3 separate regions of the Homo sapiens genome follow, and regions 1 and 2 are each linked to region 3. Evidence: fine-mapped expression QTL. A gene starts in region 3. Each other region holds a variant in brackets. All regions are shown on one strand. Distances are from middle to middle.

What was found.
Region 1: its variant is fine-mapped to the expression of ZNF213 in fibroblasts (GTEx, PIP 0.97).
Region 2: its variant is fine-mapped to the expression of ZNF213 in whole blood (TOPMed, PIP above 0.99).

The regions. Positions count from the first base shown.
Region 1 is chr16:3,163,133-3,165,889 of GRCh38, forward strand. TRK-CTT8-1 (tRNA-Lys (anticodon CTT) 8-1) reads left to right here and starts at 1,806; the gene lies at 1,806-1,878. The variant T/G (reference allele first, on the strand shown) is at 1,309.
Region 2 is chr16:3,179,136-3,181,892 of GRCh38, forward strand. It overlaps TRK-CTT5-1 (tRNA-Lys (anticodon CTT) 5-1), which reads right to left and starts at 1,491; the gene lies at 1,419-1,491. The variant G/A (reference allele first, on the strand shown) is at 1,452.
Region 3 is chr16:3,133,955-3,136,711 of GRCh38, forward strand. It overlaps ZNF213 (zinc finger protein 213), which reads left to right and starts at 1,075. Exons shown (of 6, transcript NM_004220.3): 1 at 1,075-1,433. It overlaps ZNF213-AS1 (ZNF213 antisense RNA 1), which reads right to left and starts at 928. Exons shown (of 6, transcript NR_110900.1): 1 at 676-928. RefSeq lists enhancers at 656-825, 836-1,025 and a silencer at 1,136-1,365.

The sequences.
Region 1 (2,757 bases), 29 kb after region 3:
TTTTTTTTTGAGACGGAGTTGCCCAGGCTGGAGTGCAGTGGTGCCATCTCGGCTCACTACAACCTCCGCCTCTGGGGTTCAAGTGATTCTCCTGCCTCAGCCTCCCGAGTAGCTGGGATTACAGGCGGGTGCCACCACGCCTGGCTAATTTTTTGTATTTTTAGTAGAGACGGAGTTTCATCATGTTGGCCAGGCTGGTCTCCAGCTCCTCACCTCAGGTGATCCACCCGCCTCAGCCTCCCAAAGTGCTGGGATTACAGGCGTGAGCCCCCGCGCCTGCGCGCCCGGCCTGATTGACATTTTCAAGCTGGGATTTTCCAGGCTTTGAGAATGACCAGGTCTGCGATGACACTCCCTGGCTGGGAGCAGGAGGGACTCCTGAGACTGCTCCCCTTGTGGACAAAGAGGAAGTTGGGCCGATGGCCGATGACGGCCAGGCCGCGAGGCTGCTGCTGGGCCCTGGGTCACAGGTCGAGGTGTCAGGCCTCTGAGCCTAAAGCTCAACCATTATAACCCCTGTGACCTGCACATATACGTGCAGATGGCCTGCAGGAGCCAAGAAGTCTGAAGAAGCCAAAAAAACCACAAAGAAGTATAACAGCCGGTTCCTGCCTTAAGTGATTAACCAACATTACAACATTCTACCACTGTGACTTGTCCCTGCCCTACCTTGGCTGATCAATCGACTTTGTGACATTCTTCTTTTGGACAATAAATCTTATGACCTCCCTACCACATACCTTGTGACCCCCTCCTCTGCTAACAATAGATAACCACCTTTTACTGTAATTTTCCATTACCTACCCAACTCCTACAAAGCAACCCCTTCCCCATCTCCCTTCGCTGACTCCTTTTTCGGACTCAGTCCGCCTGCACCCAGGTGATTAAAAAAGTTTTACTGCTTACACAAAGCCTGTTTGGTGGTCTCTTCTCACAGATGTGCTTGACAGAGGCCGCCCTGCAGTTCCTGTTCCGATCTAAGGAAGGGAAGGGGAGGCGAGGAAGAACTGGGTCCCAAGACAAGAGGGTCCATTTCGTGAGGCACACACTCAGGACAGACCCTACCCCGCTGCTCTACTCTTTCGCTTCAGTCCCTCCTTCCCGGCCTCCGCTGGCCCCCTGACCCCGCACTGATCATTAATGCAGAAGCAGCGCAGACCAGCAGCCGGGATCGCCGGTAATCCCAGCACTTTGGGAGGCGGAGGCGGGCGGATCACCGGAGGTCGGCAGTTCTGAGGTCGGCAGTTCGAGACCAGCCTGACCAACATGGAGAAACCTCTGTCATGAGCCGCTTGCCTCCACCGTGCA[T/G]GCAGATCTGCAGGGGAGTGGGAAGAGGCAGGTTCTTTGGGTCATTTGAAACGGTTTGGAGATATGCAGAGGCTGGGCTCAATATTAAGTAGGAATTGGGATTTATATTGGCAGCGAAGCGTGGACCCAGGCCCCTTCGGATCCGCACTTGGGCCCCAGAGAGAGGTTGTTCCTTTCCTCCCCGCCTCCCACTCAGGACCACCCATGGCTAATGGTCCCTGACTACAAATTCCACCTGACTGGAGGCTCGGGTTTGAGGTTACACAACTCGCTGAGAAGGGGAGGATAGGGGCTCCCAGATGTCCGGAGACCCCGGCAGGGACTGTGCACCCAGCTGTCTGAATGCCAGAGGCCGGCTCCGCGGGTAGCCATCCCTGCACCACCTCCTCGGGACTAGAGTCACCACAGCCTTTGTTTTTTTGTTTTTGTTTTTGTTTTTGCAGCGCCTGTTTTGAGGATTCTGAGTATTAGGGTGGGAAGCAAGTATTATTACATCAGCCTGGCTAGCTCAGTCGGCAAAGCATGAGACTCTTAATCTCAGGGTCGTGGGCTCGAGCTCCATGTTGGGCGGAGCTTTTACCATTCTTGGTACACAGAATTCAGCATCATCGCAGGTGACCCAGTTTCCGAAGCTTGGCCCCTAACTGGAAGGTAAAGTTTCACTGAGTCCCAACTCAATCTGTGTCCCCATCAGAGGTTTCAAGGCCTCCTCCCAAATTCATCAATCTGACCACTGGACTGCTGTGTTATCTCTCACAGCCGGTGTCCGAGAACCAGAGTCTCTTAGGGAAAAGGAATAGGAGATTTGCACCCCAGGAAGTTCTGTCTGCTCACCCTAGGCTGGGGTAGAGAACCTGGATCCCTTTACGTTAGCACAAGACCCAAAGTTTCCTTCCCTCCCCCAGGAGACTCAGTCCCAGGGCTGGAGGTGGATGTGCTGCTTCCAAGTTCAGCCAAGGGAGAAGGGCCCTCCCACCCAGTTCAGCTGAGACTGTGGGTCAATGTAGGGGCCAGCCCTACAGGGTCTGTGGGGTTTTCTCCCCATGTATGTAGATGAGAGACCATAGAAATAAAGACACAAGACAAAGAGATAAAAGAAAAGACAGTTGGGCCCCGGGGGGACCACCACCACCAAGACGCGGAGACCGGTAGTGGCCCCGAATGCCAGGCTGCCCTGTTATTTATTGGATACAAGGCAAGGGGGCAGGGTAAGGAGTGTGAGCCATCTCCAGTGATAGGTGAGGTCACGTGGGTCACATGTCCACTGGACGGGGCCCTTCCCTGTATGGCACCCGAGGAGGAGAGAGAGAGAGGAAAGACAGCTTACGCCATTATTTCTGCATTTTAGAGGCTTTTAATACTTTCACTAATTCTGCTACTGCTATCTAGAAGGCAGAGCCAGGTGTACAGGATGGAACATGAAAGTGGACCAGGAGCGTGACTGCTGAA
Region 2 (2,757 bases), 45 kb after region 3:
AAAAAACTATTCTGATAAACCGGCCGGGCGCGGTGGCTCTCGCCTGTAATCCCAGCACTTTAGGAGGCAGAGGCAGGCAGATCACCTGAGGCCAGGAGTTCGAGACCAGCCTGGCCAACATGGTGAAACCCCATGTCTACTAAAAACATACAAAAATTAGCCGGCCGTGGTGGCGCGTTCCTGCAATCATAGCTACTCAAGGGAGGCTGAGCAGGAGAATTCCTTGAACCCGGGAGGCAGAGGTTGCAGTGAGCGGATATCCCATCACCACACTCCAGCCTGCGTGACAGAGCGAGACTCATCTCAATCAGTAAATCAATCAGTCAATAAACCTCACTGCCCCAGGAATGCCGACACCAAGTCAAGCAGACCTTCTCTTCCCTGCCGTCCGCTTCCCTGACCTGCTGGGGTTGGGAGGGCACATTCTGTGGCAGGTTGACTGGGTTTCCATGTTTCCATCCCAGCTCCTCAATTTTGTCTGAAAATGCAATAATAAGAGTATAGTAGTGAAGATTAAACGAGTTTAGATAAGTAAAGAGCTTACAAGAGTGTTAGGCATGGTGAGCCTAATAAGCATTAGCTACGTCTACTGCTAATGTTGAACATCCTAATCTCTGCCCCCTGGGTCACCGTCACCAGCCTCACAACTCTGCAAGCAGGTACCAGCAGCACCACGCTGGCCGTACAAGCAGAGATCCAGTGAAATCTTGTATGCACCCAGAGGGTCCGGGTGGAGGGAGGTTGGGTAACTCAGGAGACCACAGCTGCTCCCTCCGGCTGCACTGGGCACTTCTGGGAGGATCCGGCACCCACCTCCCTGGGCTGGAGGCCTCTAATCAGAGAGGAAGGCAGGAAAGCCAGACACTGGGACTGTCAAACTAGTGAACATTGGGATCTCTATCCCCCTCTACTTGATGGGACCTGAGTCAAACTCTACCTGACATGACCCCCTGGGGATCAGCATCTGGGCAGTGTTGCTGGACAAGGGTGGAGCCAGGCATAAGGACGATGGGAGATAAGCAGAGAAAGGTTTTGTAGGTGGCTCCTTGTCCAGGCTATGATTGTTGCTTAGGGTACAAGAGAGTCCAATCCTGTACAAGCTAAGGTTCTCAGACTTTCTTCTGTTTTAATGAGGACAGCCCTGTTGGGATCCCAGAAAAGGAAAACCCTAGTGGGGGTCTTCCCCAGGGCCTCTGCTATCAAGGAGCGAGGAATTACTGTTCTCCTGGTCTTCCAGGTAGGAACCGCATCCATGGGGCAGGAGCCAGGATGGCTTTCTGGAATAAGCAGGGGAGGGCATAACCAGACATTGGTCACTTTAAATCTTCTGCTTGAGTTTCTTCTTTCACCAAGTCTTGCATTGCCAGGGGCAGAAAGCTGGGAGAAAAAGATGTACCTTCATGGTACAGCAAAAGGCACGCCCAACGTGCGGCTCGAACCCACGACCCTGA[G/A]ATTAAGAGTCTCATGCTCTATCGACTGAGCTAGCCGGGCTTCCTTATAGGATCTTTTCCATATCTACAAATGGGCCGAGTGGCCTAAGGGTGGTGGAAACAAAGGGAGGTAATGAATCACCCCGGGAAACCAGGGCGCGCTTGGGGTCCCCCACAACAGACTCAGTTCGCCACCGACGTCCCCGCTAGTGCAGGATTTCCCTCACCACCCCGCAATCTCCCATAAATGGGGGTGACCTGCCAGAGTCTCCTTCGTCACCGCGCCGGCATATATCTGTGTTCTCCCAGTCCGTGCCCTCCTCTGAAAAGGCCTTCTTTCAGAAAGAGAAAAAACATTCTCAGACTGCGACTGCACGCACTTAAAGAGTCAATGACAACCTTGGCAACCCTTTTTTTTTTTTTTTTTTTTTTTTTGAGGCCACTTGAGTTACAGGGACAGGAGAGTTCTGCTGTGTATGGGCCATCCTTGCAGCTGCAGACAGAAAGCCCAAAGCTCACTGGGACTCACAGAAGCCCTCGCAGGTGCTGCTCCGCACTGTAACCTACTGTGGCGTGCATCTAGTTGTTCCCTTTCCATTACCGTGTGCTTCTATATCTAGAACTATTTGGTTCTTTTTTCAATCAAGAAGGTTGGAGGTCCTGATGTCAAAGATATTTTCTTTATTGCCTTTCATTTCTTTAGACACAGTAGGGACAGTTGTATTATAAGTCGGATACACTTTGCATCTGAAATATTTGCAATATTGTTTCTGTTCCTGTTAATGAGTTGTTGCTCCTGGTACCTTCTTTCCTTGTTAATTTTTAGGGTGCAATGTCCATTTTCCTTGCAAATTTCTTTGTGTAGGAAATTCTGTGAGATCTGGAATACAAATGTATTTGTCCACACACACACAAAATTATTGTTTGCTTCTGCAGGGGCTCAAGGGCATAACCAGACATTGGTCACTTTAAATCTGCTTGAGTTTCTTTCCACTTGGTCCTCAAGCGCTCAAAATTGGATTAGTCACGACTCTTGGTTCCCGGCATGTTCTCAAACCCAGCATCCCAAACAAAAAGGAAGACTCTGCCAATAGATTCTGTCCTCAGAGTAGATGTGAGGAGGCCCCAGTCCTGGTGGGCGCTGGGACTCAGGACGCAGATACCCGGGTTCCTGGGTTCAGTCTGTACCCCTTCCAGAACTAGGATAGGGGAGGAGAGGAGCCCCAGAAGGCTACACGCAGGTGAGGAGTGTCGGGATGTGGGGAGGGAGAGGACTCTAGACCCCAGATACAAACGCCCATAGCCCATCTCCTCTGCTCAAGTGCCC
Region 3 (2,757 bases):
AAAAAGTGTCTGCCCTCATGAACACTTATCGTTGAGTCGTGGGAAACACGTATATGTCAGGTAGTGATAAACATTAGGGAGAAAAGTTAACGCCGAGCACAGGTTGTTTACAGAGCTGGGGAAGGCCTCCTTGAGGGGGTGACATATGAGCAGAATGAGGGAGCAAGCCTTGTGGCTATCACGAGAAAGCTATCTTTATGGTTTTCCAATTAATTTTCTAAATTTTCTCTTCCAAGCATGCAACACCTACATAATTAAGACAAAACAAACCAAAAAAACTCTTTCCATTTATGAAAGAGATCTGGAGCCTGAAATCATCTCCGGGTCGAGGCGTGGAGAGAGTGGGAGAGGATCCGAGGGTATGGAAAGGACCCCGAGCCCCCCTGCTCTAGATCCCTCCGGGCCGTGGGACCCCTGACGCCCAGCAGCAACTCGTGGACAAAGCAGCTGGTGAGAGAACGCGGGACTCCGGCCAGGTCAGTGTCCCGCTTGCCGCGTCCTGCTAAGGCGACCCGAAGACAGAGGATCGCCGCAGGAGGCTCCGCGCCCCTTACCCGAGGGCACTTCCCAGCAAGCTCGACGCCTCTCCAGGGAATTGGGAGGAGCGGGACCCAAGAGGCTAGAAAAGAGTCTCCCCGGCCCGAGCTCCACGGCCCGCGGCCTTTCGGCCCTCACCTACTAGTTGGCAAAGAAAGACCGTGGCAGAAGGAAGAGGCCGCTCCAGCGCATCCCTTCGGGCGGAGCAGAAGCTCCACTTGTGGCTAGGCCATGTGCCCTCTCCGTTCCTCGGGCCAGCCTTGGCTTCCCCTTTTTGTCGCTCAAGGGCCAGGGTCGCAAGGAAATGTGAAAAAAAAGCGGAGACAAAAGAGAACGAGGTAAATCTAGATGCAGAGCCTCGCCTTTCCTCCCGGGTGCAGGTGTATGACGCGTATGGAGTTTCTGTCTTCTAATAGGCAGCCTGAGAATTCTTCCTGTTCATTGGCCATCGGTCATGGAGAAGGCGGGCTCAGTGGACGAACGGCTTTCTGGGAGCTGGGGAATGCTTGCGTAGCGTAGTTTCCCAGCGAGCCCCGCGAGGACTTCCGGCGCCGGGAGCTCGCGGCGGAAGTGGGATCTCCTGGGCCGTAGTGGGCGTTGTGTGTTTCGGGGGCGGGGGCGGGGGCGGGGGCCGGGGCGGGGACGGGGCCTCTGGCCGCCTGGCTCCAACATCAAGCACCGGGCTCCGAGTGGCCGGGATCAGCGCCCCGAGGCAGAGGCCGGAGGGCGCGCGCACTGCTAGGAAGTGCTGGTCCCCCGCGCCGCTCTGCCAGCTTGGTCCCCCGGCAGACGCCCCTGTACGATCGCCGCTCGCCCCGCGGGCGAGGCTGCGGTGGACAGCGCGGGGCTCCGGCTGGCTCGCCTTCCCGCCTGCCGTGTCCTGCTGAGCGACCCTGGTGAGTCCTGGCCCTCTTCGAGGAAAGTCTTCTTCGAAGTCACCAGAGGATGAGAATGGTGCGCGCACCTTTCAGGGGTCTTGTGAGGAGCAGAATAAATAAAGTGCTTAGGATGGACTAAAGAATTGGAAACAACCCGAATGCATCACTCGAGTATTGATTAAGAAACTAGAGCATATCCATACCGCGGAAGCTCATAGTGCCGCTAATGTCTGTGCAGTAAGGTCTCATTTATGTAGAAACACATCAAGCACCTTTTCTCCCCGCTATGGATGACTTTTTTAGTAAAAGCACAGGAAAAGGTCTGGGACGTCATTTGTCAGACTGTTAAGTCGGGGGGTACAATGGTATTGAGGAAGGGAGAGTTTTACAGATTTCTATATTGTTTGAATCTTCCCTTTTTTATTAAGATGGTTTGTATTTTTTTCATTTTCTTTTTACTTTTCTTTTCTTTCTTTTTTTTTTTTTTTTGAGATGGTCTCACTCTGTTGCCCAGGCTGGAGTACAGTGGTGCGATCATAGCTCATTGCAACCTCAAACTCCTGGACTCAAGCAATCTTTCCTCCTCAGCCTCCCCAGTAGCTGGGACTACAGGAGCCCCACCTGGCTTTTTTTGTTTTTTGGTACAGATGGCGTCTCACATTGTCTTCCCAAAGGGGTCTTGAACCCCTGGCCTCAAGCAATCATCCTGTGTCTGTCTCCCAAAATGCTGGGATTACAGGCATAAGCCACCAAGCCCGGCCAGTTTGTATTTTTATTGTTGAAACAAAAAATCGATTACTGAAAATTGCATAATACACTTTTCAGTAGAGAGTAACAATGTAAGGTATAAATGTGTCATACATTTATATGTACCTGTGGATAAATGGCTTTGGATGGTGTCTGTAAGCCCTTCTGTGACACCTCAGGGCCAGATGTGTTTTGGAATTCAGAGGTTTTCAAATTTGAGAAAGATAATATAGTGCACAGACGATATATCAAGCACATCTCCAGAGGGATCTGGGGCAACACTAAATAATGAAACATATCAGTTAAAATTTTTTAATTAGGCCGGGCGCAGTGGCTCACGCCTGTAATCCCAGCACTTTAGGAGGCCGAGGCGGGTGGATCACAAGGTCAGGAGTTTGAGACCATCCTGGCCAACATGGTGAAACCTCGTCTCTACTAAAAATACAAAAAATTAGCTGGACGTGGTAGCTGGTGCCTGTAGTCCCAGCTACTTGGGAGGCTGAAGCAGGAGAATCGCTTGAACCTGGCAGGCAGAGGTTGCAGTGAACTGAGATTGCGCCACTGCACTCCAGCCTGGGCGACAGAGTGAGACTCT